7 linked regions of the Homo sapiens genome follow. The protein of the gene in region 1 purifies or fractionates together with the protein of each later gene. This does not show direct contact. Each region holds a gene or a part of one and is shown in the gene's direction. Other genes may lie near its edges. The genes, in order: CDC40, ODF2, SRPK3, ISY1, ESS2, ISY1-RAB43 and CEP170.

Region 1 (3,922 bases):
TGTTATTCCCCAGGTTATACCTGAAAATGTTTTCCTCTGACCATGACCCTGATAGAAGTTTTTTCTAGTCATTTCCTCCTTCTGCTGGATGGATGGATAAATAGAGAAAATCCTTATATTAAGGCAAATTACTATTATTTTCCAGTTAATCAAAGTATTGGAACTTGAAACAGGGTTTGAAATTGAAATTGCTGCTGTATAATCTGTGTTATTCATCAGATTACAAAAAAAATATTTCTGGTCTCATGAAAAGCAACAAGACGAAAACTCCTTTCAGAAAAGAATTTTTAGCATGGAGAATATTAAAAATGAAAAGGCACTTAGAACTTTTGATGGTTCTAAATTTAGGTGGCTACTTTTTAATTTTTTTTTCATTCTTTCATCACTCACATGAGGTTTTTTTTTTTTTTTTATGTTTTTTCTCCTTCACCAAACACATTTGAAATGCTTTACATGTAAACTGAAGATAGTCCAGGTACCAAGCATTTATTTATCATCATTTATCATCATTTCTGGATGGGCTAGATCAGCTCACAGATCCCTACAGCTTTGCCTGCCATCCACCTGCATTGCTGCAGGCTGTTTAACACTCTCACCTCCTCAAGTTAAGGTAGGCTAGCCAGTAAATAACACTTCCCCATAGGCTTACCTCAGACATCTTGCTTCACCCTACCATGGTACATTTTTAATTTAATTTTTGGTTTTATTTCAACAGCTTTTGGAGTAAAAGTGGGTTTTGGTTACATGGATGAATTATATAGTGGTGAATTCTGAGATTTTAGTGTATCCATCACCATGGTACATTATTAAAGAACTTTCTTTCAGTAACAGATTTTTTAACATAAAGGCCAAAGTTTAAATGAAATAGAAAACAAAATCACCACCACTGTTATAATGATCATGGAAAGTGATTTATGAAGTACAGGATTTACCATAAGCAGTACAGTGTCATCTTGTGATTTTTCTTCTTCCAGAAAGTTTCATGAAAGATTTATTAAATATATAATATCAAGAGTTTGCTTTTATTTGCATATTATTCCTTTGTTCCAGAGATAATTCTGAAGGTACTTTTTAAAAGTTGCTTATTCTGATATGCTATTTAAAATTTTTAGGGATATCCCTGTGGATTTCAAGTACATAGCAGAACCCAGTATGCACTCAATGCCTGCAGTGACTTTGTCTCCAAATGGTGAGTTAGTATGTAGATTGTATTTTTAAATGAGCTTCTAAGATACAGTGTGATTTCTTTATTCAAAAGAACTTTGGCCCCTTCCTTCTTGGGGAAGTTTGTCACTGTGCCATTATTTGTATAAGGTAATCTTTACAATATTAGAAAGAATTACTGGTTTTCATATGCAAGTCACCTCACCTACTTTTCTGTGTCTCTTTTTAAATAAAAATAAAAGAAACAATGATTTACAGCTAACATTGATTGAACATCAGATTTTTATTTAACAATCAGTTTTCTTTTCTTTTTTCTTTTCCCCTCCTCTCCCCTCCTCTCCTCTCCCCTCCCCTCTTTTCTTTTCTTTTCTTCTTTTCGAGACAGGGTCTCCCTTTGTTGCCCAGGCTAGTCTCAAACTCCTGGGCTCAAGTGATCTTCCCTCCTCAGCCTCCCAAGGTGCTGGGATTACAGGCCTAAGCCACTATGCCCGGCCAGAGTTTTCTTTTCTAATTCTCCTTCCAAACAGAATCACGTTCAGTAAATCATTTAATAATGATTTGGCCAAGGCAGAAGAATCACTTGAACCCAAGAGTTTGAGACTAGCCTGGGCAACATAGAGAGACCTCATCTCTACAAAATAAAATTTTAAAAATCAGCTGGCATGGTGGTGCACATTTGTAGCCCTAGCTACTTGGTCAGGCTGAGATGGGCAGTTTGGTTGAGCCAGGAGATTGACTATGATCATGTGACTGTACTCCAGCCTGGGCAACAGAGCAAGACCCTTCTCTCTAAAAAAAAAAATAGTAATAGTGATTTACTGTAAACTCTTTCAGGGGATAGGAAGTTTTGGTCTGATTCTCCATAATGAGAGAACACTTTAGCAATTCACTATAAAAGATTTTCTCAGGCAAAAATTAAGAAGATAAATCTATTTAATATTGTTTAATCCATTGTCTTTTACGTACAAGATAATTTGTGCTACAGATATACTGACAATATACTGATGTAATTATAGCTTTACATGAGAGTCTTAAAGTGGGAGTTCTGATGTTTGGGGGACCTTGTCATTGAAACCACTGTCAATTCACATAATTAACTCCAAGTGTAGGGCAAGGAAGAATTTGCTGTTCCATCAGGGCCTCTGACACAAGCAAATGGTAATAGTTGTCAAATGCTCTATCATTTTTATGAGAAGAGAAACCTAACTGAACCTTTTTTTGATCATTGCTAGATTATATACTTCGTCACTGTGCATCTATATTTCATGTAGCGTATTTTTAAACCACCTATTACAGATTTTGTGCCCATCTTGAACAAGGCCATTTACCCACTCAGGCATTATTTAAGTCTGTTTCCTTAGTAAGTAATGTTTACATGTACAGTTGGCCCTTTGTATCCATGAGCACCATATCCTGGGATTCAACCAGCACGAATCCAGAATATTCAACAAAATAAACAATAAAAAATAACAATACAACAATTAAAAACAACACAGCATAACAACTAGGTACAAAGCATTTACGTTGCATTAGGCATTATAAGTAATCGAGAGGTGATTTAATGTATACAGGAGATATGTAGGTTATATGCAAATACTATGCCATTTTATATAAGGGACTTGAGCATCTGTGAATTTTGGTATTGGGTAGGGGTGCAGATCCTGGAACCAATTCCCAACAGATACCAAGGGATGACTATATATAGGATGCAAGTATAGTCATGCATTCCTAACAACAAGGGTACTTCTGAGAAATGCAGTGTTAGGTGATTTTGTCATTTTGTGAACATCACACAGAGTACTTACACAAACCTAGATGGTATAGTCTACTTACCCTAGGCTGTATGGTATAGCCTGTTGCTCCTAGGCTTTACCCCTGTATGGCATGTTGCTGTTCTGAATAATGTAGTCAGTGGTAAGCATTTGTGTATCTAAACATAGAAAAGGTACAGTAAAATCTCAGCATAGAAAAGGTACAGTTAAAATTTAGCACTATAATCTTATGGGACCACTGTCATACGTGCGGTCCATCATTGACCAAAACATTGTTAAGTGGTGCATGACTATAGACGCTGCAGTTTAGGCTCTAGGGGCTTTGATGAATCCTAAGTAGAGAAAAGCATTGTAGCCTTTTAAAAAGTTACTATAATTTTTAATATATCTTTTTTTGTATAGTTTTATTTAATAACCCTAGGCTTTCTCACCCCTTAATCTTTCTTTATTCTGTAATTACCACAGATAAGTCTCTTTCTCCTATTTCCCATAGTTCTGTTGTCTATACTTACTATAAATTAATTTCATTTCACAACTTTTAGCTTATTTCTTTAACATTAAGCTTGGAATTTCTATATTTCCTTATTTTTTTAAAAACTTTTATATGAGAGTGCTCAATGATATAGGATCGTATATGCAAAAGCCATTAGTTTATATATTAATACCTCTTGCCAGTGACATATTTATAACATTTTACAGGTGGTATAGTAAATTTATTTTTTAGTATTATAAAGTATTTGGGAGCAAAACTTATATTAATCACAGTGAACATATTTAAAATAAAAAGTTTTAAAAATTGTTTTAGTCTTCCTCTAAAATACCTCATTTATTGAATTTACAGGAAAATGGCTAGCATGCCAATCAATGGACAACCAAATCTTAATTTTTGGAGCACAGAACAGATTTAGATTAAATAAGAAAAAAATTTTTAAGGGCCATATGGTAGCAGGCTATGCTTGTCAGGTGGACTTTTCACCAGACATGAG
Region 2 (3,922 bases), on another chromosome or scaffold:
CAGTGGCGGGCGCCTGTAGTCCCAGCTACTCGGAAGGCTGAGGCAGGAGAATGGCGTGAACCCGGGAGGCGGAGCTTGCATTGAGCCGAGATAGCACCACTGCACTCCAGCCTGGGCGAAAGAGCAAGACTCCATCTCAAAAAAAAAGAGGTGGGCAAGAGTCCTCCAGCCCTGGTCCCAGCCTTAGTTTCAGAGGTGAAGGTGCCTGACATCCTAGGAGGCCCTAAGTGCCTCAGGTGGCCAGTGCACTTGCAAGGAGGCTACAACCAAGTGGGCTCCTTCCAGGCTCCACCTCTGCTCTGCCCTGCCAGCCTTGGAAATGGCAGCTAGATCCCCCAGGCCCTGCAGAGCTCCTTAAATTGGAAGGCATCCTGGAAGTGCACTGAGGACAGTGTGTGTATATCGGGATGGCCATATTTGCCCTATGGCTGGTCACACAAGATGTTGAGTGGTGTAGCTGAAGTCCCTTTGCTGTGGGAGGCAGCAGTGAACAGCAGAAGTTGCAGGCTTAGGTTTTGGTTACAGACTTGCCAGCTGTGCTGACTTCAGGCCAATGAATTCCCCTCTCTGAGGCTCAGTTTCTTCATTTCTGAAGTGGGGATAATAATGGTACCATTTTTCTGAGCTGCAAGTTGCTGTGTTCCATGTGATGCTATCCACACTTAACAAAGCCCACGGTCAGTCTCTGCGTTCCCACCCTTCACTCTGTTCTCTAACCAGTTGCTCCAGCTGCACAGTTCTTTGGTCGCCTTGCTGATCTGCAGATTTCTTTGGCTTATTCCTGTGGCTCCTTGGAGATTCTTGGCATGATGAGATCCCCAGTCCAGGAGAGGCTGGCAGCCCCCTGGCGGGGTGGAACATGACAGGTTGGGGTATGCCCAGGATCTGATTGAGTGCTTTCACCTAGGAAACTGGAGGCGACCAGTGCCCAGAATATCGAGTTCCTACAGGTGATTGCCAAGAGGGAGGAGGCAATCCACCAGTCCCAGCTGCGGCTGGAGGAGAAAACACGGGAATGTGGGACCCTGGCAAGGCAGTTGGAGAGTGCCATTGAAGATGCGAGGAGGCAGGTCAGTCCCGATTTCATGAATGACTAGCTCTGTGACCTTGGGCAAATCACCTAAACTCTCAGCTTATTTCTCCATCTGAAAAATGGGCACACAGTAGTACCCGCTTCATGAATTAGTTGTAAGGATCACATTTTCATCGTAGAGGGCTCAGCACTTGATATCTGATGATTGCTCATTTACTCACTACCCTCTTGAGCCTCACATAGGCTTACCACATCTTAGGTGGTGACTCCTGGAGCACTGGCAAAGCTGGGTGGCAGGCATAGTCCCCATAGTTAGTTCCTGCCCCAGCGTTCTAGAGAACACAGTCCACAATGATGTGCAAGTGCTGTCTGCAAGACCAGATAGTGGGCCCAGCCTTCTCTTTGCCAAGTGTTCCCCATGTCCGGTAAACCAGTCTCATGTCTGGGCCTTTGAATGTGCAGGTGGAACAAACCAAGGAGCACGCACTCTCCAAGGAGCGAGCAGCCCAGAACAAAATCCTGGACCTTGAGACCCAGCTGAGCAGAACCAAAACGGAATTGAGCCAGCTGCGGCGGAGCCGTGATGATGTGAGTCAGGCTGGTGGGCCGGGCTAGGAGAGTGGGCAGCAGACCTAGCTTCTGTGGGGCCTGTGGGCCAAGGTGTTTTGTTGTTACTGTTTTTGTGAATATGACATGGTTTTATTTTTCTCCAATCACTTTCTATCCCTTAAGGATATCCTGGGTAGATATTTATTTATTTATTTAGAGACGGAGTCTCCCTGTGTCACCCAGGCTGGAATGCAGTGGTACGATCTCAGCTCACTGCAACCTCTGCCTCCTGGTTTCATATGATCCCCACCCCACCCTCAGCCTCCCAAGTAGCTGGGATTACAAGTATGTGCCACCATCCCTGGCTACTTTTTTGTGTGTATTTTTAGTAGAGATGGGGTTTCGCCATGTTGGCCAGGCTGGTCTTCAACTCGTGATCTCAAATGATCTGCCCATCATGGCCTCCCAAAGTGCTGGGATTACAGGTGTGAGCCACTGCACCCAGACTCACGTTTTGTTTTGTTTTGTTTTGTTTTGTTTTAGACAGAGTTTCATTCTGTCACCCAGGCTACAGTGCAGTGGTGCTGTCATAGCTCACTGCAGCTTCAAACTCCTGGGGTCAAGTAGTCCTCCCACCCCAGCCTCCTGAGCAGCTAGGACTACAGGCGCACACCATCACACCCAGCTAATTTTTGTATTTTTTGTAGAGATAGAGTCTCACTATGTTGCCCATGCTGGTCTTGAACTCCTAGGCTCCAGTGATCATTCCGTCCTGACCTCCCGAAGTGTTGGGATTATAGGCATGAGCCACTGTGCCTGGTCTTAGAATATTTTCAGAAAGAAACCCCATACCCATTAGAAGTCACTCCACACTCGCCTCCCCAAACCTCCTGGCAACTCCTAAGAAAGTCCCTATGTCTCTATGGATTTCTATTTTGGACACTGCACAGCGGGCCCATGCTCTGTTTCTCCTCGTTAGGCGGACCGCCGCTACCAGAGCCGGCTGCAAGACCTGAAAGATCGCCTGGAGCAGTCCGAGAGCACCAACCGCAGCATGCAGAACTACGTCCAGTTCCTCAAATCATCATACGCCAACGTGTTTGGGGATGGTCCCTATTCCACCTTCCTGACTAGCTCTCCCATCCGCTCCCGATCTCCTCCTGCCTGAGGCCACTTATCAGGGCCTGGAGCCCTGATGGAAGCCATAGGAACTCCAGAGTTGCCAAGCCATAGCTGAGAAGCCTGGTGGTTTTCCTCTCCCAGTGAAAAAATGGGTTCAGGGTCTTGTCCTTAGCTACTAGCTCTAGAAAAGTCCCAAAAGCAGCAGAAGGTGAAGCAGGAAGCACTTGGTTTTCTCCTTCCTGATATAGTCACCTGTTGGAAGTGTTAAAATTTCCTCGACAGGCCTTAAATTTACTACTACATTAGGGTACCACATTTTAACTTACCATGACTTTGCTCCTTCCTTTCCTGAGAAAATATTTCCACTGGATTTTTTCCACCAGTCCCCTTACAGCCCTCATTGTTTTAGGAATCTCTCTCAGGTTTTTTCTGACCTAAACCAGCAGGAAGTCGTCCTGGGCTGTAAGCACCATCACTTGCTTTTTTTTTTTTTCTGATTTCACAAGTGTGGTGTTTTCCCAAGGCTCCCTTCCCAAGCTCAGTGCAAACCTCTCACTCCCAAGTTTCTTTGAGGCCACTTGCCCCCAAGCACTTCACAATAGACCCTCGAGGGCTTGTGTCCATTTGGCCTTTTACAAGTGTAATGCCAATTTCATTGATTTTTGTTTCTTTTGGCCTGATTTGTATCTCTGGAATGCATTTATTCTTGAAATATTTGTGTGATTTTACAAAAAGCTTTTGTAATCAGTTATTTAAGGCTCCATTTGATGATTTCCTTTACCCAACCAGTCCTCATCCCTCCTCTAAAAAATGATTAAGTAAAATGCTGCAGGACAGCCAGTAGACATTTTTAAAGTACTTGGTGCCTGAAACATCAGGCTTCTCATTTCATTTTAGCTCAGGTTGGTGCTTTCACATTGTAATCAATGAACTGTCAGGAGGGAACAAACTGTAAGAAGGATTGCTTGGTGTTTTAGGGTAGATCACTTTAGCTATTAGGAAGAGGATGGGGTAGTGTACAGTATATATTTTTAAAATGTGAATTGGTTTCTGAATAAGAATCTGGGCCATTTTTGTTCACCATTTTTGTTCGTACTGTGCTAACCTCTGCCCTTCTGATTCTAGCTAGTATTGGCCTGGGTGGTCCAGTCTTCTCACCTCTCAGCCACTCTGACTCAACTCTAGAGAATTTCTTCTCTGTTCTTTTTTCTTCTGGAG
Region 3 (4,722 bases), on another chromosome or scaffold:
GGGAGCTGGCAGAGCCTGGGGGCACAGGGTGCAAAGCCAGGCACTGTGCCCAGCAGTGGGCTCCCTGCCTGCCACCTCCCCTGCCAGCCCACCCACCTTCCCCCCACCTGAGATTGTTTCTAATTTATAAGGATCCCCCTCCTTCCCCCTCTCCCCATTGTATTTATTTGCCTGCTGGAAAATCACATCCGGAAATAAAATAGAAATATGTCTTTTTATTTTATTTTGAGACGGAGTCTCGCTCTCTCTCCCAGGCTGGAGTGCAGTGGCGCAATCTCGGCTCACTGCAACCTCTTTTTCCCGGAGTTCAAGCAATTCTCCTGCCTCAGCCTCCCGAGTAGCTGGGACTACAGGCGTGTGCCACCACACCCGACTAATTTTGGTATTTTTAGTAAAGACAGGGTTTCCCCATGTCGGACAGGCTGGTCTCAAAACTCCTGACTTCAGGTGATCTGCCCGCCTCAGCCTCCCAAAGTGCTGGGATCACAGGCATGAGCCACCGCGCCTGGCCAGAAATGTCTTTTGACAAAGGGCCCAATCCCCAGCCCCTGCTGTTCCCTGCAGGAGCTGACTCAGTGCTCTCCTGACTGAGAGTCCCTCAGCCCCATGCCTATAACCTGCTACCCACAGACAAAGAGAGGCCATCAGGTACCCGGGCTTCACTTTCCCTCCCACTCTCTGACCTCGCTGGCCCCTCCAGCAATGCCTGGCCCACCCCTACCAGTTCACGGACCCTGGTACAGGGACACTGCACCAATATCTTGGGACAAACACCCTCTCTGCCGAGCCCCCTCCCTTTCATTGGGACTCCTCTGTCAGGCCCCAGCTGGCCTCCCGGCTCCACCCTCGCCTCTCCATTCCCTTGTCCTTGAAGTGGCCAGAGTGATCTTTTGCTGAGCAGAAGCTCAGTGACCACCCCCCAACCCCATATCACCCAAGCTCCACATTAAGCCTACAGACACCAGGCCTCTAGTCCTCGCCCTCGAACCATGCGGCAGCCGTGGCCAGCACGTGAAGGGCTGGAACGCGTCTTGGCCGCAGGCCTTGCCCCACTGTGCCCTGTGCTGCCCTGGATGCTTCTGGGGACCCAATTTCTCCTGGTCTCTCATGATGCAGCCCCTGGGTCACAGGCCCCTCAGTCACCACCGCACTCATGGGGAAGTGGCTATGGGCTTGCTTGTCCCCAGCAGTGAGCAGCTTCCTGCTGCCTCCCTCATGTCTGGCTATGGAGCAGCCCACGACAGGCACCTTGCAAATGGTGGAGAGGAAGAGCAGGCGCTGGGAGCCAGAGCGCCAGGCAGCGTCGCAGGAGCAGGTTCTGGGCTGGCAAGCTCCCAGGCCTCCCCTCAGCAGGCCTGTTGCCTCTGGTAGGGGAAATGAGGGGTCCCCAGTGACGCCACATTCAGAGGGCACTGGACTCCCAGTTGTCCTAGGGGCTGATGAAACATAGAAGAAGCAGGAAGTGGCTGGGAGCAGCCAGGGACAGGGTTCCCATGGGAATGAGAAGGGCACCTCCAGGAGGATGCCCACAGGGGCACAGGTGGTGGGGGCTTGGCCTAAGGACCAGGTTGCCAAGTGGAGCACATCCCCACAGTCCGCACCGGAGAACGGGAGCCCGACCTGGGGTACGGGCTGCTTCACCCCCGCGTGGACCTCCCCCTCAGCTGGGGTGCGGAGGCTCAGCCTGGGGGCCCAGTTGCCCCTGGTCCCCAAGCAGCAGCCCCCTCTGCCTCCAGGGTGGGCCTGGAGCAGGAGGGGGGCCTCTGCCCGGGGGCCGGGCTCTCTGGGGCCGCCGTCGCGCCGCCCCCTCCCCGCACCGCATACCTTGCCCACAGCCGAGCAGCTGGGAGGCTATTTATAAAGGCGGGTGAGATCAGCGGCCGGCCAAGGCTATAAATTCGCAGGCCGCGGCCGGGCCCCACAGGAGCAGCCGCCCGGGGCACCGGAGCTGCGGGCTGCGTGGCCGGGATGAGCGCCAGCACGGGCGGTGGTGGGGACAGCGGCGGCAGCGGCGGCAGTAGCAGCAGGTAGGGCTCGGCTGGGGCACCCGGAGCCCCTGGCGTCTCTCATGCCCACTGCCACTCACCCCACCCGCAGCTCACAGGCCTCCTGCGGGCCCGAGTCCTCGGGCTCCGAACTAGCCCTGGCCACACCGGTGCCTCAGATGCTGCAGGGCCTTCTGGGCTCCGACGACGAGGAACAGGAAGACCCCAAAGACTACTGCAAGGGTGAGACTTGGCCTTGGGGACATGCGGCCTCACGGCCACTGCAGGGACCCAGGGCAGTCCTGGGCCCACATGGGCCAGATGGTCAATGGGGCCGAGGTGTTCGGGGGCCCAGGGGAGTGAGAACCCCCTCCACCCCAATCTACATCTCCCCTGGGCAGGCGGCTACCACCCTGTGAAGATCGGCGACGTGTTCAATGGGCGGTACCACGTGGTGCGCAAACTGGGCTGGGGCCACTTCTCCACCGTCTGGCTCTGCTGGGACATCCAGTGAGTGCCTCCTTCGCCTCCGGGGCCCAGCACTGGCTGGGATCCTGTCCCTGGGCTTGCTTGGGGCCACCCTGATCCCCGCCGTGGGTCCTGCCAGGGCCACAGCCTACAAGGGTCTCGGTATTGCAGGCGCAAGCGCTTTGTGGCCCTCAAAGTGGTGAAGAGTGCGGGGCATTACACGGAGACAGCTGTGGATGAGATCAAGCTCCTGAAATGTGTGAGGCACCTCCCTACCCCACTCCCAGCTCCCCTGGAGCTGCCTGGGGCCTGGCAATGCGGGTGCAAGGCCTGCCGGGGCTCTGTGGGGCAGGGCGGGGCTCCCTGAGGGGCAGCCTCCAGCTGGCTGTGCCCAAGGGGGAGGATCTGGAGGAACAGGCGAGGGACAGGAGGGGTTGGCGGCCTTTCTTCCAGCAGGGCCCAGCTGGAGCAGGAGAAGGGTACACTGAAGGGAGCTGTGGGCTTCAGGGCAGGGTGGAACCATCTGTGGCCCCTTGGCTTTTGCTCCAGGTCCGGGACAGCGACCCCAGTGACCCCAAAAGAGAGACCATTGTCCAGCTCATTGATGACTTCAGGATCTCAGGAGTCAATGGAGTCCGTATCCTTTGCAGGAAGAGCAAAGCAGTGTGGCAGCCAAGGGCCGGCAAATGGGGGGGCCCTCGCTGCTAGAGCCTGTCTGCAGACCCGCACAATGGGCTTGCATCCCTCCCAGTAACGGGAGCCTCTGGCACGACCCCGCCCCCAGGTAACTGTGTTTACGTGGAGGCAGTAACAAGCTAGCGTTGATTGTCCATGGACGTTGCTATTATCCCCAAACGGCAGGTGCTGTCTCTGTGGCACTGCCTTCCCTTTGGGGGACTGCCAAGAGGCCCTATGGCATAACTAGCATGGGAGTGGGCTGGCCCGAGAGGCCTCTGTGCCTGCTCCTCCAGCGCCACCTCTAGGATGACCACAAAATGCACCATCCCAACTGGCATACCTGTTGAGACTGACAGGGACACTATCGATGATGACACCAGCATAATGGTGACCAGGACTGCCCAGGGGAGGCCCTGCCTCCCCACCTCCACACGGCCCAAGCCTTGCTGCTCCCCTAGCTGAGGGTGGGTGGGGCCTGTGCCGCAGCTGGTGTCCACTGGCCGCCCTTCACTCCCAGCCCAGATGTGTGCATGGTGCTGGAGGTGCTGGGCCACCAGCTCCTCAAATGGATCATCAAGTCCAACTACCAGGGCCTGCCCGTGCCCTGCGTGAAGAGCATCGTGAGGCAGGTGAGTGCCACCCACTGGGCTGCCCAGCCTGGCCTGGGCGGGAGTTGGAGGAGGTCAGGTGCGACTCTCTGCAGGTGCTGCACGGCCTGGACTACCTCCACACCAAGTGCAAGATCATCCACACGGACATCAAGCCCGAGAACATCTTGCTGTGTGTGGGGGACGCTTACATCAGGCGCCTGGCTGCCGAGGCCACGGAGTGGCAACAGGCAGGGGCGCCGCCCCCCTCCCGCTCCATAGGTACCAAGGGCCCACATGGGGCTGGGTCGGGGCCTCTGGGCCTGAACCCCTGCCTGAGTCTCTGTTCCTCCCTGTCCCCCCCCACCGCTCCCCACCTGCACTCCCAGTCAGCACTGCCCCCCAGGAGGTCTTGGTAAGTTGGGGGGCCCCTCTCTCCCATGCCTCCTCTCCCATCTGAGCCAACTGGAGGCCATCTCTGGAGCCACAGTGGCTCCACCCCCCACCTTCACGCACTCCCACGGTGGTAATCCCGAAAGGCTGGGTGGCTGGGCTGACGGTAATTCCCGGGGGGGGTCAAGTGCCCCAAACTGCTCTTGGTGAAAGGATGCTGTCTTCCCCGAATGGCCACTTCCGCCTGCCTTAGCTTGGGCTGAGAGGGGACAGAGAGCACCCTGAGGCGGGCCGGCCAGGTCTTCCCACTCCTAATGGAGCTGTGGGGAGTGGGGCCACAGGCGGGGAGGCAGGGAGAGTAGTGAGTAGCTGGTGCCAAGGGGCGCTGGCGCCACATTCTGGTGTCCATGGGAGCCCTGGGGCCCGGAGAGGCCTCTTCCCTGGCGGCTGTGCAGGGAAACCTCCACTTCATGCTGACTGGGGCGGGCGACAGGAACCCTGGGGTGACCCTGGCTCTGACAGCAGACCGGTAAGCTGTCCAAAAACAAGAGGAAGAAGATGAGGCGCAAACGGAAACAGCAGAAGCGGCTGCTGGAGGAGCGGCTGCGGGA
Region 4 (3,922 bases), on another chromosome or scaffold:
ACTCCAGCCTGGGAGACAGAGCGAGACTCTGTCTCAAAAAAAAAAAAAAGATCAATAAAATTGATAAACTTCTAGTCAGACTGACCAAGAAAAAATATACACAAATTAAGAATATTAGGAACCAAATTGGGAATATTACTATAGAATCTATATACATTAAAAGGATAATAAGGAAATATTACAGACAATGTTATGCCCATAAATTTGACAACTTAGATGAAATAGGTCAATTCCTTACAAGACACAAACTGCCAAAGCTCACTTAAGAGAAGTGGTCCTTTTTTTTTTTTTTTTTTTTTTTTGAGATGGAGTCTTGCTCTGTCACCCAGGCTAGAGTGCAGTGGCGAGTTCTCGGCTCACTGCACTGGGTTCAAGCAATTTCTCCCTGGGTTCACCTCCCTGGGTTCAAGCAATTTCTCCTGCCTCAGCCTCCCGAGTAGCTGGGATTACAGGCACCCTCCATCATACCTGGCTAATTTTTTTTTTTTTTTTTTTTTTTGAGACAGAGTCTCGCTCTGTCACCCAGGCTGGAGTGCAGTGGCGCCATCTCAGCTCACTGCAGGCTCCGCCCCCCGGGGTTCACGCCATTCTCCTGCCTCAGCCTCCCGCGTAGCTGGGACTACAGGCGCCCACCCCCTCGCCTGGCTGATCTTTTGTATTTTTAGTAGAGATGGGGTTTCACCGTGTTAGCCAGGATGGTCTCGATCTCCTGACCTCGTGATCCGCCCGCCTCGGCCTCCCAAAGTGCTGGGATTACAGGCGTGAGCCATGGCGCCCAGCCAAATTTTTGTAATTTTTTAGTAGAGACAGGGTTTCACCATGTTGAACAGGCTGGTCTTCAATTCCTGACCTCAGGGGATCCACCCTCCTCGGCCTTCCAAAGTGCTAGGATTACAGGTGTAAGCCACAGTGCCTGGCCGAGAAATAGTTCATTTTGTTTTGTTTTGTTTTGTTTTGAGACAGAGTCTTGCTCTGTTGCCCACACTGGAGTGCAGTGGCATGATCTTGGCTCACCGCAGCCTCTGCCTCCCGGGTTCAAGCGAATCTCCTGCCTCAGCCTCCTGAGTAGCTGGGCCTACAGGCGCCCACCACCATGCCCAGCTAATTTTTTTTTGTATTTTTAGTAGAGACGGGGTTTCACCATGTTAGCCAGGATGGTCTCGATCTCCTGACCTCATGACCTGCCCACCTCACCCTCCCGTAGTGCTGGGATTACAGGCTTGAGCCACTGCGCCCAGCCCTGAAGAAATTTTTGATTGTTACAACTGGAAGGGTGCTACTGGCACATAGTGGGTAGAGGCCAGGGATGTGCTAAGCCTCCTACAAATAATTATCCTAAATAAACTACAGTGTCAATAATTCTACTGTTTAGAGACACAGTTCAAAAAGAAATGGTAAACCTGAGTAGTCCTATATCTGTTAAAGAAATTGGGGCTGTGCACCGTGGCTCACGCCTGTAACTGCAGCACTTTGGGAAGTGGAGGTGGGTGGATCACCTGAGGTTAGGAGTTCAAGACCAGGCTGGCCAACATGGTGAAACCCTGTCTCTATGAAAAATACAAAAATTAGCCAGGCATGGTGACGCATGCGTGTAATCCTAGCTACTTGGGAGGCTGAGGCAGGAGAATCACTTTAACCCAGGAGGCAGAGGTTGCAGTGAGCCAAGATTGGGCCACTGCACTCCAGCCTGGGTGACAGAGCGACAGTCCATCTCAAAAAAAAAAAAAAAAAAGATGGAAAGAAATTGAATTCATTTCTAAATACCTTTCTAAAAGAAAATTCCAGACCCAGATGGCTTCACTGGTCAGTTCTACTAAATATTTAAGGAAGAAATAATACCAACTCCACATAGTTTCCTCAAGAAAATGGAAGAAGAGGGAACACTTTGTAACTCATTTTGTGAATTTTAGTATCAGCATTACCCTGATGCTAAAATCAGAAAAAGATATTATGAGAAATAACTACTGACAATATTTCCTATGAATATAGACAAAAATCTTTAATGAAACATTAGCATATCAAACCTAGCAATGTATGGCCGGGCGCGGTGGCTCACGCCTGTAATTCCAGCACTTTGGGAGGCCAAGGTGGGTGGATCGTGAGATCAGGAGATCGAAACCATCCTGGCTAACACACGGTGAAACCCCGTCTCTACTAAAAATACAAAAAAATTAGCCGGGCGTGGTGGCAGGTGCCTGTAGTCCCAGCTTCCTGGGAGGCTGAGGCAGGCGAATCGCTGGAACCCGGGAGGCGGAGCTTGCAGTGAGCCGAGATTGCACCACTGCACTCCAGCCTGGGCGACAGAGCGAGACTCCGTCTCAAAAAAAAAAACAAAACCTAGCAATGTATAAAAAGGATAATACATCACAACTAAGGAGGATTTATTCTGGAAAAACATAGTAGATTCAGCATTCAAAAATAAGTTAATTCACTGTGTCATTCCAAAGAAGAAAAACTGTATGATCTAAGTAGATGCAGAAAAAGTATTTGACAAAATTAGACGTTTATTCATGATAAGAACTCAGCAAACTGGGAATAAAAGGGAACTTTTTACCCTGATAAAGCACTTCTTTTTTTTTTCTGAGACGGAGTTTTGCTCTTGTCACCCATGCTGGAGTGCAGTGGTGCAATTTCAGCTCAATGCAACCTCCGCCTCTCAGGTTCAAGTGATTCTCCTGCCTCAGCCTCCCGAGTAGCTGGGATTACAGGTGCCAGCCACCACGCCTAGCTAATTTTTGTATTTTCAGTAGAGACAGGGTTTTACCATGTTGGCAAGGCTGGTCTCGAATTCCCAACCTCAGGTGATCCACCCACCTTGGCCTCCCTAAGAGCTGGGATTACAGGCATGAGCCACCACACCCGGCCCTGATAAAGTACTTATAAGAAACCCATAGCCAATAAACTATTTAATGGTGAAGGATTGAATGCTTTCCTCTTAAGATCAGGAACGAGGCAAAGACATCCACTCTCACCACTATATTCAGCGTGATGCTGGAAATCCTAGCCAGTGCGGTAAAGTAAAAAAAGGAAATAAAAGGCATAAAGATTAGAAAATAATAAGTAAAACTGTCTTTATTGTAACATAGAAAATCCTATATAATTTTCTTTTTTTTGAGATGGAGTCTCGCTCTGTCACCCAGGCTGAAGTACAGTGGTGCAGTCTCGGCTCACTGCAACCTCTGTCCCCTGGGTTCAAGCGATTCTCCTGCCTCAGCCTCCTGAGTAGCTGGGACTACAGGCATGTGCCACCATGCCCGGCCAATTTTTGTATTTTTACTAGAGACAGAGTTTCGCCATGTTGGCCAGCCTGGTCTCGAACTCCCAACCTCAGGTGATCCACCCGCCTCTGCCTCCCAAAGTACTGGGATTACAGGCATGAGCCACCATGCCCACCTAAAATCCTACATAATTTTCTATGTAGAAAATCCCAAGGAACCTACAGAAAGACTTCTAAAATGGATAAGTGAATTTATCAAGATCACAGAAAAGAAGTTCAATATACAGAATTATATATATACACACACACCCCATATATATTCATATATATATTTTTATATATTTATATATATTTTTATATATTTATATATTTTATATATTTATATATATATATATTTTTTTTTGAGACAGAGTCTTCCTCTGTCACCCACGCTGGAGTGCAGTGGCCCAGTCTCGGCTCACTGCAACCTCTGCCTCCCAGGTTCAAGCTATTCTGCCTCAGCCTCTCGAGTAGCTGGGACTACAGGCATCCACCACCACACCTGGCTGATTTTTGTATTTTTAGTAGAGACAGAGTTTCACCATGTTGGCTAGGCTGGTCTGGAACTTCTGGGCTCAAGTGATATCTGCCTGCTTCAGCCTCCCAAAGTACTGGGATTACAGGTGTGAGCCACCATGCTCAGCTTCAAAATTATATTTTTATATA
Region 5 (3,922 bases), on another chromosome or scaffold:
TAATTTTTTGACACAGAGTCTCGCTCTGTCACCCAGGCTGGAGTAAAATGGTGTGATCCCGGCTCACTGCAACCTCCACCTCCCAGGTTCAAGCAATTCTCCCTGCCTTAGCCTCCCAAATAGCTGGGATTACAGGCGCCTGCCACCACTCCTGGCTAATTTTTGTATTTTGTAGTAGAGACGAGGTTTTGCCATGTTGTCCCGGCTAGTCTTGAACTCCTGACCTCAGGTGATCTGTCTGCCTCGGCCCCCCAAAGTGCTGGTATTACAGGTGTGAGCCACCGCGCCTGGCCAAGACATAACGTTTTAAAGGCATTTCTGTTTATGGTCTCTTTCCCTAATTGGCATCCCTTGCACAAGAGCAGAAGCTTTGTTTTGCTTTCATCTGTATGCTCCGTGTTGGGAACAGCACATGTGGTGTTGTGGGCCTTGCACAGATACACATGGAACAGATGAAAGAGTTGTCATCTTCAGCATGTTTGCTGGGACACACAGCTCTATATGGTAACATCGTGACTTGATGGGGGAGTCGGTTTAGGAAAGGGCACTCCGAGTCCTGTTGAATGCAAGTGTTCTGCACGCCATGGGACTTCTGCGTTGTCAGGCCCTCTTTTCATCAGTAGTAGAATGTCAGTGCATGTATAGACAAACGAGACACTCTTTCTTATCAGTTTGTAGACTCCACTGTGCTGGAGTAGCACAGATGTGTTGTGTGTTTGCACAAACATGCAAACATGATACTTTTTGCTTTACAATCCAGCTTTTTCGGCCATTAACACAGTCCTTGTTGTCCTTGAAGCTTGATTATCTGTTGAAATGTAGCTTGTGCATCACAGGGCAATTTGTAGATTTTTTTCTTCTCCTTTTTTTTTTTTTTCCTATAGAGATGAGGTTTCATTATGTTGCCCAGGCTGGTTTTAAACTTCTGAGCTCAAGTGATCCTCCCACCTTGGCCTCCCGAAGTGCTAGGATTACAAGTGTGAGCCATCATGCCTAGCCAGTTTGCAGATTTTCAATACCTGTACACCTACATGCCAGTAAATATAGGAATCCTTTTCAGAACCTAAGTGGTAGGAACCATCATCATGTTTACAGGTGAGGAAACTGAGGCTCAGAAAGGCAGTCACTTCTGCAGGTCTCAGAGATGGTCAGGGTTTCACTTCTTATCTCTCTGAGATGAATAGAGTTTCTGACCCCTGTCCTCATCCCGTGGGTCTTGAGCTTGTAGCCACTGTGCCTTGTGCATAGCCTCACGTGTAGCAGGTGGTCAGGACTGTCACTAGACTTGAAGGCAGAGCTCTCCAGGTGGCCCCACCGAAGTTTGCACCACCACACGCAGCACCAGGGCACCACCTCAGTGGGAGTACCACTTTCCATGGTGGCAGGGTTGGTCGGAGGGGGGGGTGTTTGGGGTTGTGGCTTAGCACCTGTGAGGCCCCATCCAGAGGACTAAGTCATATGAGATCCCTGGAATTGGGGCTCGCTCTCAGGTCAGGATGATTAGGCGATGACCACCCACCTGTAGTACAGGTACCAGGAAGAGAAGAGTGGGTAAGGTAAGGAAATCCTAGGGAGTGAGGGAGAGCCCCAGGGATTTGGAGGCCTGGCACCCACAGGCCTGGCACCACTTTGGTGGGGGAGGAGCCTGCCTGTGATCACGAGCTCTTGCTCTAACACCTGTATTGCTTTCTCCAGTCTGAATCAGACCACGTAATTCCCTTGGCATCCAGCACATGAGCAGAGCTGGCCCTGAATCTGTAGGGTACCACCTGAGGGCTCTCTGGGCAGTCAGGGTGGGTGGATTCTGCCCCCGTGGGGAGTCCTTGGCAGTGTGGGCTTTCATGGGCAGAAGCCAGGACCAGGGGAGAGGATTCCAGCCCTGCATGTTGGGGGCTATGATTCCTGGGCCTGGGTGTCCTCCTCTTTCCTGACTGCAAAGGGTGCTGTGTTCCTCCTCCCGCAACCCCTAAGCAGGAGAGGCTGGAGAGGAGGAGGAGAAGGAGCCGCTGCCCAGCCTAGATGTCTTCCTGAGCCGCTACACGAGTGAGGACAATGCCTCCTTCCAGGAGATCATGGAGGTGGCCAAGGAGAGAAGCCGGGCACGCCACGCTTGGCTCTACCAGGCTGAGGAAGAGTTTGAGAAGGTGTCTCTGGGGTCTGGGGTGTCACATAGGCGTAGGCACCCTCTGTGGTGGTTGGGGAGCCCCAGGGCCATGGGTACAATGCCCAGGGGCATCTCTGACCATCACTTTTCCCCATGTGATTGCAGAGGCAGAAAGATAATCTCGAACTCCCGTCAGCAGAGCACCAGGCCATCGAGAGCAGCCAGGCCAGTGTGGAGACCTGGAAGTACAAGGCCAAGAATTCCCTCATGTACTATCCAGAGGGTAAGTGGCGGGCCTCGCAGCCAAATGGGGAGGTGTTGGGTAGAGCTGTGTGTGTCTGGCTGTGTTTGGAGCAGCCTTCCAGGTGTGTATGGCCGTGCCCCCTTGCAGTTTGGGCTTCTGATGGGTACTGGTCTGTCTAAGGGTGGACAGGTCTGTGTGAGGTCAGCAGTGAGTGAGACCCTCTCCAGCGGCACTGGGGCCTGCGTTCTGCTCAATGCTTTTGTTCATCTGGGAGTGACTTGGCCGAGAAGCGAGCTCCTCATGCTCCTTAGGCTGCTGCCCTTCTGACACCTGCTGCTACCTTTGCTTCGTCTGCCAGGTGTCCCTGACGAGGAGCAGCTGTTTAAGAAGCCCCGGCAGGTGGTACATAAGAACACGCGCTTCCTTAGGGACCCCTTCAGCCAAGCCCTGAGCAGGTGCCAGCTCCAGCAGGCAGCCGCCCTCAATGCCCAGGTGAGCAGGCGGGTCAGCAGGGCCGCATGGGCCAGGTTGGACAGGGCTGCCTGGGGGCAGGCATGATCTCTCCCATCTCTTTGAGCTTGGCAGAGCTCAGTGAGTGGAACCATCTGGGGCCCTGTGCGGCAGGATCCTGAGTCTTTCCTTGGCCCCAGTGGGCTTCCATTGAACACTGCCTTGGTCACACACGTTCTGTAGGTCCAGATCTGTGCCAGCTCCCTTGATGGCAGGGGCAGGAGAGAAAAGGGACTGCTGGGAGTGAGCCCAGGCTGGCAGCTGCACGCCCACACACCGGGCAGGGAAGCCAGAGAGCCGCAGAGGGAGCCCAGCCCCAGGGGGTGGCTGGGGTGGGACAGGCCCTGGGTTGGCAGAGAGCAGAGGCTTTCTGAGTCTGGGAGCAAGACGAGTAGATACTCTCTGATGGTGACTGTGGCAGTCACAGGGTTGAAGTGGGGAAGGCAGGAAGAGACTAGAGCATAAGCATTGCCTGTCATCAGCATTGCCTGTCATCAGCATTGCCCCCTGCAGGGGCCTGGCGTCAGCATCCTCTGGAGTTGCTGGGATAGGCGCAGCTCGAGTGGAGGCCCTGGCACCTCCCTGGATGGGAGGAGGGGGCTTTCCTTGCTTGGGTACCCACTTTGACAGGCCCTCAAGGTCTTTTGGGGGGTTGGGGCAGGGGCCCTCCCTCTCTTTCTCCAAGAAGGCTGCCAACCCCAGAGCCCCAGCCTTGCCCTGAGGAGAGGAAGTGTTTCCAGCATGTTCCCACGTGTTTGCCCACCGGCCAGCTGTCGAGCGTGGGCTGCGGTCCCCCTGATGCCAGCCTCTCTGCTTGTTCCAGCACAAACAGGGCAAGGTGGGCCCCGATGGCAAGGAGCTGATCCCCCAGGAGTCCCCTCGAGTGGGTGGATTTGGATTTGTTGCCACTCCTTCCCCTGCCCCTGGTGAGAAAAGTGCCCACTGGCAAGTGGGTCTACTGCTGGGACTCCCTGGGGGAGGTGGGCTTCTCAGTCGGCCCTGGCCACTCCTGGCCTCTACCTGGCCTGCCCCACACCTTGTGTAACTCAGGGACCTGGTCTCCT
Region 6 (3,922 bases), on another chromosome or scaffold:
TTTCCGGCCTTAAAAATTTTTTTATTTTTTTAGGCCAGGTGCGGTGGCTCATGCCTGTAATCCCAGCACTTTGGGAGGCTGAGGCGGGCGGATCACAAGGTCAGGAGATCAAGACCATCCTGGCTAACATGGTGAAACCCCGTCTCTGCTAAAAAAAAATACAAAAAATTAGCTGGGCATGGTGGCGGGCACCTGTAATCCCAGCTACTTGGGAGGCTGAGGCAGGAGAATGGCGTGAACCCAGGAGGCGGAGCTTGCAGTGAACTGAGATCGCGCCATTGCACTCCAGCCTGGGCAACAGAGTGAGGCTCTGTCTAAAAAAATAAAATTAAAAAATAAAAAATAAAAAAAAAAAGAAGAAGAAAATACAAAATTAGCTGGGCATGGTGGCAGGTGCCTATAATCCCAGCTACTCGGGAGACTAAGGCAGGAGAATGGCGTGAACCCAGGAGGCGGAGCTTGCAGTGAGCTGAGATCACGCCATTGCACTCCAGCCTGGGTGACAGAGCGAGGCTCTGTCTTTAAAAAAAAAAAAAAAGAAGAAGAAGAAAATACAAAATTAGCCGGGCGTGGTGGTGCGTGCCTGTAATTCCAGCTACTCAGGAGGCTGAGGCAGGAGAATTGCTTGAACCCAGGAGGCGGAGGTTGTGGTGAGCTGAGATTGCGCCATTGCACTCCAGCCTGAGCAACAAGAGCGAGACTCCGTCCCACAAAAAAAAGAAAAAAACATGCTGGGATTACAGGCATGAGTCACTGCACCTGGCCAGCTTTTATTCTTTCACCAATCTGGTTGGTTGTCATTTTGTTTTTCATTTTTAATAATTACTTAGCCGGGTGCAGTGGCTCACACCTATAATCTTAGCACTTTGGGAAGCCTAAGCGGGTGGATCACCTGAGGTCAGGAGTTCGAGACTTGCCTGGCCAACATGGTGAAACCCCATCTCTACTAAAAATACAAAAATTAGCTGGGTGTGGTGGCGGGTGCTTGTAATCCCAGCTACTCGGGAGGCTGAGGCAGGAGAATCGCTTGAACCCGGGATGCAGAGGTTGCAGTGAGCCAAGATCATGCCATTGCACTCCAGCCTGGACAAGAGCGAAATTCCATCTCAAAAAAAAAAAAGAATTACTTAAATATTCTGGATTGTAGTCCTAGTCTGAAAATATCTTCTTTAGGGCTTTCTCATGTATCTTTTTTGTTTGTTTCTAGCTTCTTTTGTCTTTTTTATTTACTTATGTTTCCTGTCATGCTTTTTCATTAAACATTATGACAGTTCCTGTGTTATTAAAATACTTTGTGAAATAGCATTACAGGGGCTGCAGGATATCCCATCCCATACATATTCTGCAATTTACAATCATAGGTTATTCCCAAGTTTTCTCTATTATATAAATAATACTGTGATGCATATTTCTGTACATGAAGCTTTTTGCTATCTCGTGTTTGGTTTTTGTTTTTTTTTTTTTGAGATGGAGTCTCGCTCTGTCGCCCAGGCTGCAGTGCAGTGGTGCAGTCTTCGCTCACTGCAACCTCTGTCCCCTGGGTTCAAGCGATTCTCCTGCCTCAGCCTCAGGAGTAGCTGGGATTACAGGGGCCCCCACCACCATGCCTGGCTAATTTTTGTATTTTTAGTAGAGATGGGGTTTCACCATATTGGCCACGCTGGTCTTGAACTGCTGACCTCGTGATTCTCCCGCCTCGGCCTCCCAAAGTGCTGGGATTACAGGCATGAGTCACCGCACCCGGCCTGGTTTTGTTTTTTACTTAGGTAGATTGCTTTTAAACGGACAAATGGGTCCAAGTACTGATTTTAAAAAGGGCTCTACCACTTAAATAATTCCATGAATAGTATAGAAAAGTGTCTATCCATGGTATTTTCTTTTTCTGTGTGATGGAGTCTTGTTTTGTCGCCCAGGCTGGAGTGCAGTGGCGTGATCTCGGCTCACTGCAAACTCTGCCTCCTAGGTTCAAGCGATTCTCCTGCCACAGCCTGAGTAGCTGGGATTACAGGTGCGCACCACCACGCCCGGCTAATTTTTGTATTTTTAGTAGAGACGAGGTTTCACCATGTTGGTCAGGCTGGTCTCGAACTCCTGACCTTGTGAGCCACCTGTCTGGGCCTCCCAAAGCGCTAGGATTACAAGCATGAGCCACTGCGCCCACCTGGTATTTTCATGAACATACGTGCCACGTGTGTGTATAGCGTTGCATCAGGAGACAGCTTCGCTGGAGTGTGATTATGACTTGGAAACTCAGCTCCATTTCTGTTTCTTATAGCTCTTCCTCCTCCCAGAAAGACACGTGCTGAGCTCATGAAGGCAATCGATTTTGAGTACTATGGTTACCTAGATGAAGATGATGGTGTTATTGTGCCTTTGGAACAGGAATATGAAAAGAAACGTAGGTCTCTGGGCATTTTATTTCATAATAGATGGCATCTGTTTTCTGTTGTGTCCTTTGAAAACAGGATTTTCAATAGTGCTTTATGCCAGAAGGGAGTTTTCTTTGTTGCTAATGATCTTCAGGCGTGATGGTCTGCTAATTCCCTGACCCCTGTGAGGCAGTCAAAGCTGTGTGGGCCAGAGGTAACAGGTTGGGGAAGCCATGAGAGCCACGTCTGACCGGTCCCTGTCTGCTAGGAGGTCACCATGTGGATTCGTGCTAATACCAGTGCCCATGTGACACATCAGGCCAGGACTTTGGAAGCAAGTGGTCTGGAGCTGGAGCTGCTTTCTAGCATGCTCTGCCCCTGCCTTCTCTCTTTTCATGTGGACATGTTGGGAATCCACTCAGGTTGTGGAAGTGGGGAGGATTTGGGAATGTTCCCTAAAAAGCTGCTTTGTAGTGACTGAAGGCCAGAGCTGTTGTAGGACTACCATGCTTCACATCCATTTCCACCCACGGGGGCAGAATGAAGGGTGTCCCTTTCTAGAGGGGATGTCTAGACTTTCCCTGCATAGTGTTGGCCTTTCCCTGCATAGTGTTGAAAGCTCATTTAGAGACAAATAAATAGCACCTACCCTCTCTTGTGTTCAGTCAGAGCCGAGTTAGTGGAAAAGTGGAAAGCAGAGAGAGAGGCTCGGCTGGCAAGAGGAGAAAAGGAAGAGGAGGAGGAAGAGGAGGAAGAGATCAACATCTATGCAGTCACCGAGGAGGAGGTATTGGGGTTGGCCCCCTCTGGCACTCACTGCCATCTGTTCCAAGCCATGAAGTGTGGCAGGGAGGAAACTTGGCTCCCAAATACAGAGTCAGGGTTCACAGCCCAGCTTGCTCACCTGCAGGATGGCTGTGAAAACACTTGCGAGATTACAGGAGGGTTTCAGGAGGCAGCAGCCATGAGAGTGCCCTGCCGGCCGTGCTTTACACCAGGGCTTCCTTCTTTCCTTCTTAAAGACAGGCCCTTCTGCATACACTAGAATTAGACTGATAAACACAGAGGAAGCCATGAGCTTTAGCCCATGACCTCATCACTTCTGTTCACGTGTCAGTGGCAGTTGCTCTTCTGTAGTCTAACACCCCCATCTTTTTTATTTTTTTTGAAACGGAATCTGGCTCTGTTGCCCAGGCTGGAGTGCAGTGGCACAATCTTGGCTCACTGCAACCTCTGCCTTCCGGGTTCAAGCAATTCTTCTGCCTCAACCTCCCAAGTAGCTGGGACTACAGGCGAGTGCCACCACGCATGGCTAATTTTTGTATTTTTAGTAGAGACGGGGTTTCACCATATTGGCCAGGCTGGTCTCGAACTCCTGACCTTGTGATCCACCTGCCTTGGCCTCCCAAAGTGCTGGGATGACAGGTGTGAACCATTGCTCCCAGCCCTAACACCCCTGTCTTACACATGGAAAGAAACGCAGAGCAGAGAAGAAACTTTCTTAGAGGGTCATGGTTGGGGAATCTTTGCATATTTTCAGACCTTTTGCATAT
Region 7 (3,922 bases), on another chromosome or scaffold:
TGAAGCGCGTAACTTCTAACATACAGTGAAGTGTATATGTAATTTTTGTACAGAAGGCACAACCATGATTTACAGTAATAGCTAACACTTCAGTAGGGTTTACTTTATCCAACATTCTTCTGAGTGCTTTGTATGCATTTATTTAATCATCACAGCAATACCTAAAGGTACAGTTACGGTGATTTTGTAGATAAAGAAACTGAGGCATACTGAAATTAATTTACTTGTCAAAGTCACCCAACTACAAATAATGGAGCTGGGATTTGAACTTAGATTGCCTGACTCCTGAGTCCACGCTCTTAACCATAAGAAGTTTTAATATTTCAGCCATCATTACTCTTGTAAACACAATCACTCTAAAAGGATATACTTCATAGGGTACAAAGATTTAAACAAATACTCCAAAATCAAATAGCCATAAAAATTGATCCCTCCTAGCTCAGCATAATAAAATAAATTTCAAATGTGAAGCATCCAGCAATACTTTCATCTATATGAATGTAACTGAATTCTCAGCTTGTGTACTCTTTCTGCTAGATGACCAAAAGCCGTCTCATGATCTTGGGGTTCTTTTTGAGTAATAATTCAGTGATTTATGTCTTGTGTCAAATTCCTTAAAGTGCCCTGTCAGATACAGCTGATTAGTAATAGCCTTAAGAGACTCTCACTTGCTTTCTTATGTTAGTATGAGGATATTACTGTTTCAGATTTATCATTTGCAGCTTTTTAAAATATAGGATGAGGAAAATAGTTTACTGTCTTGTAATAATTTATGAAGCCAGCAGAAATTGTAGAATCAGATTTGAAATGTATATCAAGTGTTCTTTAATGTGGTCATTTTGAAATTAAGGTATTTTTAAAAACTTAAACTTTTTTTTTAAGTTTCAAATTGTGGAATATACGTGATTAGTTTAATAATTTATCCTGTAGCATACTCTTAGTGAAAGCAAAAAGTGATTTGCTTCTTCGTTATTAATTTTTAGAGTTGCATTCCAGAAAGGATAATAGAGTGTTTGCTACCTAGTAATTTTTAACGTTCCTCTCTGTGGGTTCATATATATCCAGAAACTCCCGAAGACTTGCCATATAGCTTAAAAAGCCCTGGTTTAAGCAAATACTTACTTTAGAGCAATTTCGTTCTCCAGAAATTGTGTGACTATTTTTAATCGTATTAAGACGTAAAGTTTGTCCTCAATTTATTTACAGCTATGCTTTTCTACCTCCTAACTTGGTCTCAACAATTAATTTAGGTTATAATTAAAGGCCTTTAACTGTTGCACACATTTTGAAATGGCATGTGCAACTGGGAATCATAGATTTTTGGCTCTCTCATGTTGATTTTTAATCCAGCGAAACTAAATTTGGAAATTTTCAAGTCGTAGCTCCTTTTAAGCAAAAGGAGCTTCCCAGTCTTCTTAATTTGACATGCTTGAACAGACTAGGTTAGATGGATGTCTTAAGCAGAATGAGCTGTTATAATTATAGTCCTTGTCATCTCAAATAAGTTTAATATTTCATTGAATTTAGTACAGAAGAATGAAAAGAACATTTATTCTGGATGAAGTATAAGTATCCCTTATAACATATTGTGTTAAGGTAACACAGTCATAAAATACCTTAAGAACATAAGCAGATTATCACCAATTGCTTTTCTGATTGAGATATATGGAATTAATTATGGCATAATCAATCATTAAATAATTTTTTAAAATCTAGTAATTGAGATTAATAATATAATATTAGTCTAAACAAGTATTTACTCTATTATTTAGTTTCATTTGGTATAACAAAATGAGTTTTGAAGATAGATGAATGTTAAATTTCTAAATTCCAGAATATGTTCTGTTAGTGTTCTGAGGGAGGAAAGGTGTTTTATTTTTCTGTGTTGATTAGAAGACCCCTTATAGTTTTCTATTAGGTACTTCTCAAGTGTAGTTGGACCACACTTCATCTGTTTTTATCATCTTTAGGGAAATGAATCCTTCCACATAATGAATTTTCCAGATGATTGAACTTTACTTTTACAGTTGATAGTTTTTTTGAAGTTTAACCATTTCCTAAGTTTCTATTAAATTAATTACCCATATTACCACCTTCTTAAGCAGAGAAGTTTCAGTATAATTTAAAACTTTTTCTTATGACTCAAAATCATCAATCATCAATATCAGTATTACTATTATATATATCAATAGCAATAGCAATATTGATATAATCAATAATCAAATATATTAGTAATATAATAATACTGATACTGCCTTACAGTAATGTCCTCAGGAGACTGTAGTATATAAGACTGTTTGCCCTATATACTGAATGGTACTGGACTATCATGTTTTTGGGGCCATTTGTCTGCTCTTGTTTTTCATCTTGTCTCTACCACTTGGTGCAATTTGTCTGTCCTTAATCCTCACTTTTGTACCCTGCCCAAGGTTTGCTACATGTGATCTGAGTAAATAGTAAAAACCTCTCGGTGAAGATCTTAACTGTTAGTAATGTTTATGAATATTCAAGGATAGGCATTGTCATATCTGTCTTGGGTTTTTTAGAGTTGGGTTTTGGTATTAGCTTTTTGTCTTCCTGATTCTCAGCTGTTTTTGAAGGTGGAGGGAGAAGCATTTATTTGTGTACCTGCTTTGTTCTGGGTAACTTACATGATCTCACTTAATACTCATCTCACTAAATCTTCACAACAATCTTATGGGAAGATACTGTTTTCTCACTTTATGATGAGGAAAATGAGGACTACAGACTGATTAGGGATAAGATTTATCTGATTTCAGATCTTGTCTGGGCTTTGCATGAAACCAGGCTGCCTGGTTATGATCATCAGATCATAGTCTGCTGCCTTTCCACTCTATTGTGCTACTTGACCTGGTTAGGTACTTGATTTCTAGATGAATTAGTTATTAACTTGTATAAGTCTCAAGTTTCTAGCTTTGAGTGAATGCGAGTTTGAAGTAGTACTAACATGGGAATGGTGACCTTCAAAACAGGTGACCTTGATAAGTGCTATATCCCTGGCCAGCTTTTTTGTGTTGCTTCATAGCTGAGCCACATCAGTTTTATTTAGCTCTCTGTATAGTGGATCAGTTTTATTTGGCTCTCTGTGTAGTGGTATTAGAAACTACCATCTTGACGTTGTTCTGTCACCTGAAGGATGAGCAAAGCAAAAACAAACTATATGTATATATCTATATGGGGGGAGGGAGAGAGGACAGGTTTATGAACCAGTTGTACTGTATGGACTTGATCAAGTACAGTACATTGTGCATAGTAAAAAAAAATCAATGTCTGAAAAAATAGAAAAATAACATTAATGAACTATTAATATATGAGAAGCAGTTAATACATTTTATTCTAATGGAAATTTTAACTAACATGACTTCAGAGTAAACACTCACAAGTCCAGCTGAACATTTTATTTTTAAGAAAAAGACAAATTAACTCTTTAATCAAACATTTTTTTAAACTTAGGTCATGTCATATAAATGTATGATTATTTCTCTGATAATGTAGAGTTTTTCCAATACTTTTCTTTCATGTTCAGTGATAGGAAAGCTGAGTAGATTTTAAAAGGGATAATTTTTCACAGTGAAAATTACAATATATTCTTTCATATTATATGTTCTCTTTGCCTTGTGTTTAGATTTTTTTGACAATTTATTATTATTATATTTATTGTGGAAATGGAGCTTGTTGTCTTCCGTGCCCTATCCCACACATTTGATTATGAAAGAGAGATGTTACTATATCATTCTTCTGTAACCTAAAAGCAGTCAGGTTTTATATTATTTCATATTCAGACTGCTGTCAAGAAACCAATTATAGTACCTGACAGATCCCACTAAAATTTAATTTTTGAAAAGATGTTTCAAAAGACCAAACGCTTCACTTAATTAGAAAATGTTTGGAAACAACCTAG

What was found.
Region 2: the proteins of CDC40 (region 1) and ODF2 purify together in Homo sapiens (co-immunoprecipitation; one large-scale study listed by IntAct). This does not show direct contact.
Region 3: the proteins of CDC40 (region 1) and SRPK3 fractionate together in Homo sapiens (co-fractionation; one large-scale study listed by BioGRID). This does not show direct contact.
Region 4: the proteins of CDC40 (region 1) and ISY1 purify together in Homo sapiens (affinity purification with mass spectrometry; 2 studies listed by BioGRID, with this or other methods). This does not show direct contact.
Region 5: the proteins of CDC40 (region 1) and ESS2 purify together in Homo sapiens (co-immunoprecipitation; one large-scale study listed by IntAct). This does not show direct contact.
Region 6: the proteins of CDC40 (region 1) and ISY1-RAB43 fractionate together in Homo sapiens (co-fractionation; one large-scale study listed by BioGRID). This does not show direct contact.
Region 7: the proteins of CDC40 (region 1) and CEP170 purify together in Homo sapiens (co-immunoprecipitation; one large-scale study listed by IntAct). This does not show direct contact.

The regions. Positions count from the first base shown.
Region 1 is NC_000006.12:110,225,055-110,228,976, forward strand, and holds part of CDC40 (pre-mRNA-processing factor 17), read left to right. Parts: intron 1-1,112; coding exon 1,113-1,189; intron 1,190-3,777; coding exon 3,778-3,922. UniProt on the Homo sapiens protein: Required for pre-mRNA splicing as component of the activated spliceosome. Plays an important role in embryonic brain development; this function does not require proline isomerization.
Region 2 is NC_000009.12:128,497,506-128,501,427, forward strand, and holds the end of ODF2 (outer dense fiber protein 2), read left to right. Parts: intron 1-907; coding exon 908-1,070; intron 1,071-1,495; coding exon 1,496-1,621; intron 1,622-2,561; coding exon 2,562-2,750; 3' UTR 2,751-3,787; downstream 3,788-3,922. UniProt on the Homo sapiens protein: Seems to be a major component of sperm tail outer dense fibers (ODF).
Region 3 is NC_000023.11:153,779,119-153,783,840, forward strand, and holds the start of SRPK3 (SRSF protein kinase 3), read left to right. Parts: upstream 1-1,922; 5' UTR 1,923-1,968; coding exon 1,969-2,027; exon of another isoform or gene 2,028-2,097; coding exon 2,098-2,228; exon of another isoform or gene 2,229-2,386; coding exon 2,387-2,495; exon of another isoform or gene 2,496-2,624; coding exon 2,625-2,712; exon of another isoform or gene 2,713-3,002; coding exon 3,003-3,090; exon of another isoform or gene 3,091-3,653; coding exon 3,654-3,760; exon of another isoform or gene 3,761-3,834; coding exon 3,835-4,000; exon of another isoform or gene 4,001-4,107; coding exon 4,108-4,133; exon of another isoform or gene 4,134-4,633; coding exon 4,634-4,722. UniProt on the Homo sapiens protein: Serine/arginine-rich protein-specific kinase which specifically phosphorylates its substrates at serine residues located in regions rich in arginine/serine dipeptides, known as RS domains.
Region 4 is NC_000003.12:129,150,820-129,154,741, reverse strand, and holds part of ISY1 (pre-mRNA-splicing factor ISY1 homolog), read left to right. Parts: intron 1-3,922. UniProt on the Homo sapiens protein: Component of the spliceosome C complex required for the selective processing of microRNAs during embryonic stem cell differentiation. Required for the biogenesis of all miRNAs from the pri-miR-17-92 primary transcript except miR-92a.
Region 5 is NC_000022.11:19,138,077-19,141,998, reverse strand, and holds part of ESS2 (splicing factor ESS-2 homolog), read left to right. Parts: intron 1-1,971; coding exon of another isoform or gene 1,972-1,974; coding exon 1,975-2,144; intron 2,145-2,269; coding exon 2,270-2,387; intron 2,388-2,706; coding exon 2,707-2,840; intron 2,841-3,519; coding exon of another isoform or gene 3,520-3,579; exon of another isoform or gene 3,580-3,681; coding exon 3,682-3,784; intron 3,785-3,922. UniProt on the Homo sapiens protein: May be involved in pre-mRNA splicing.
Region 6 is NC_000003.12:129,133,308-129,137,229, reverse strand, and holds part of ISY1-RAB43 (ISY1-RAB43 protein), read left to right. Parts: intron 1-33; coding exon of another isoform or gene 34-99; intron 100-2,275; coding exon 2,276-2,398; intron 2,399-3,034; coding exon 3,035-3,156; intron 3,157-3,922. Other genes in the region: pre-mRNA-splicing factor ISY1 homolog, read left to right, coding at 34-99, 2,276-2,398, 3,035-3,156. UniProt on the Homo sapiens protein: Component of the spliceosome C complex required for the selective processing of microRNAs during embryonic stem cell differentiation. Required for the biogenesis of all miRNAs from the pri-miR-17-92 primary transcript except miR-92a.
Region 7 is NC_000001.11:243,192,635-243,196,556, reverse strand, and holds part of CEP170 (centrosomal protein of 170 kDa), read left to right. Parts: intron 1-3,922.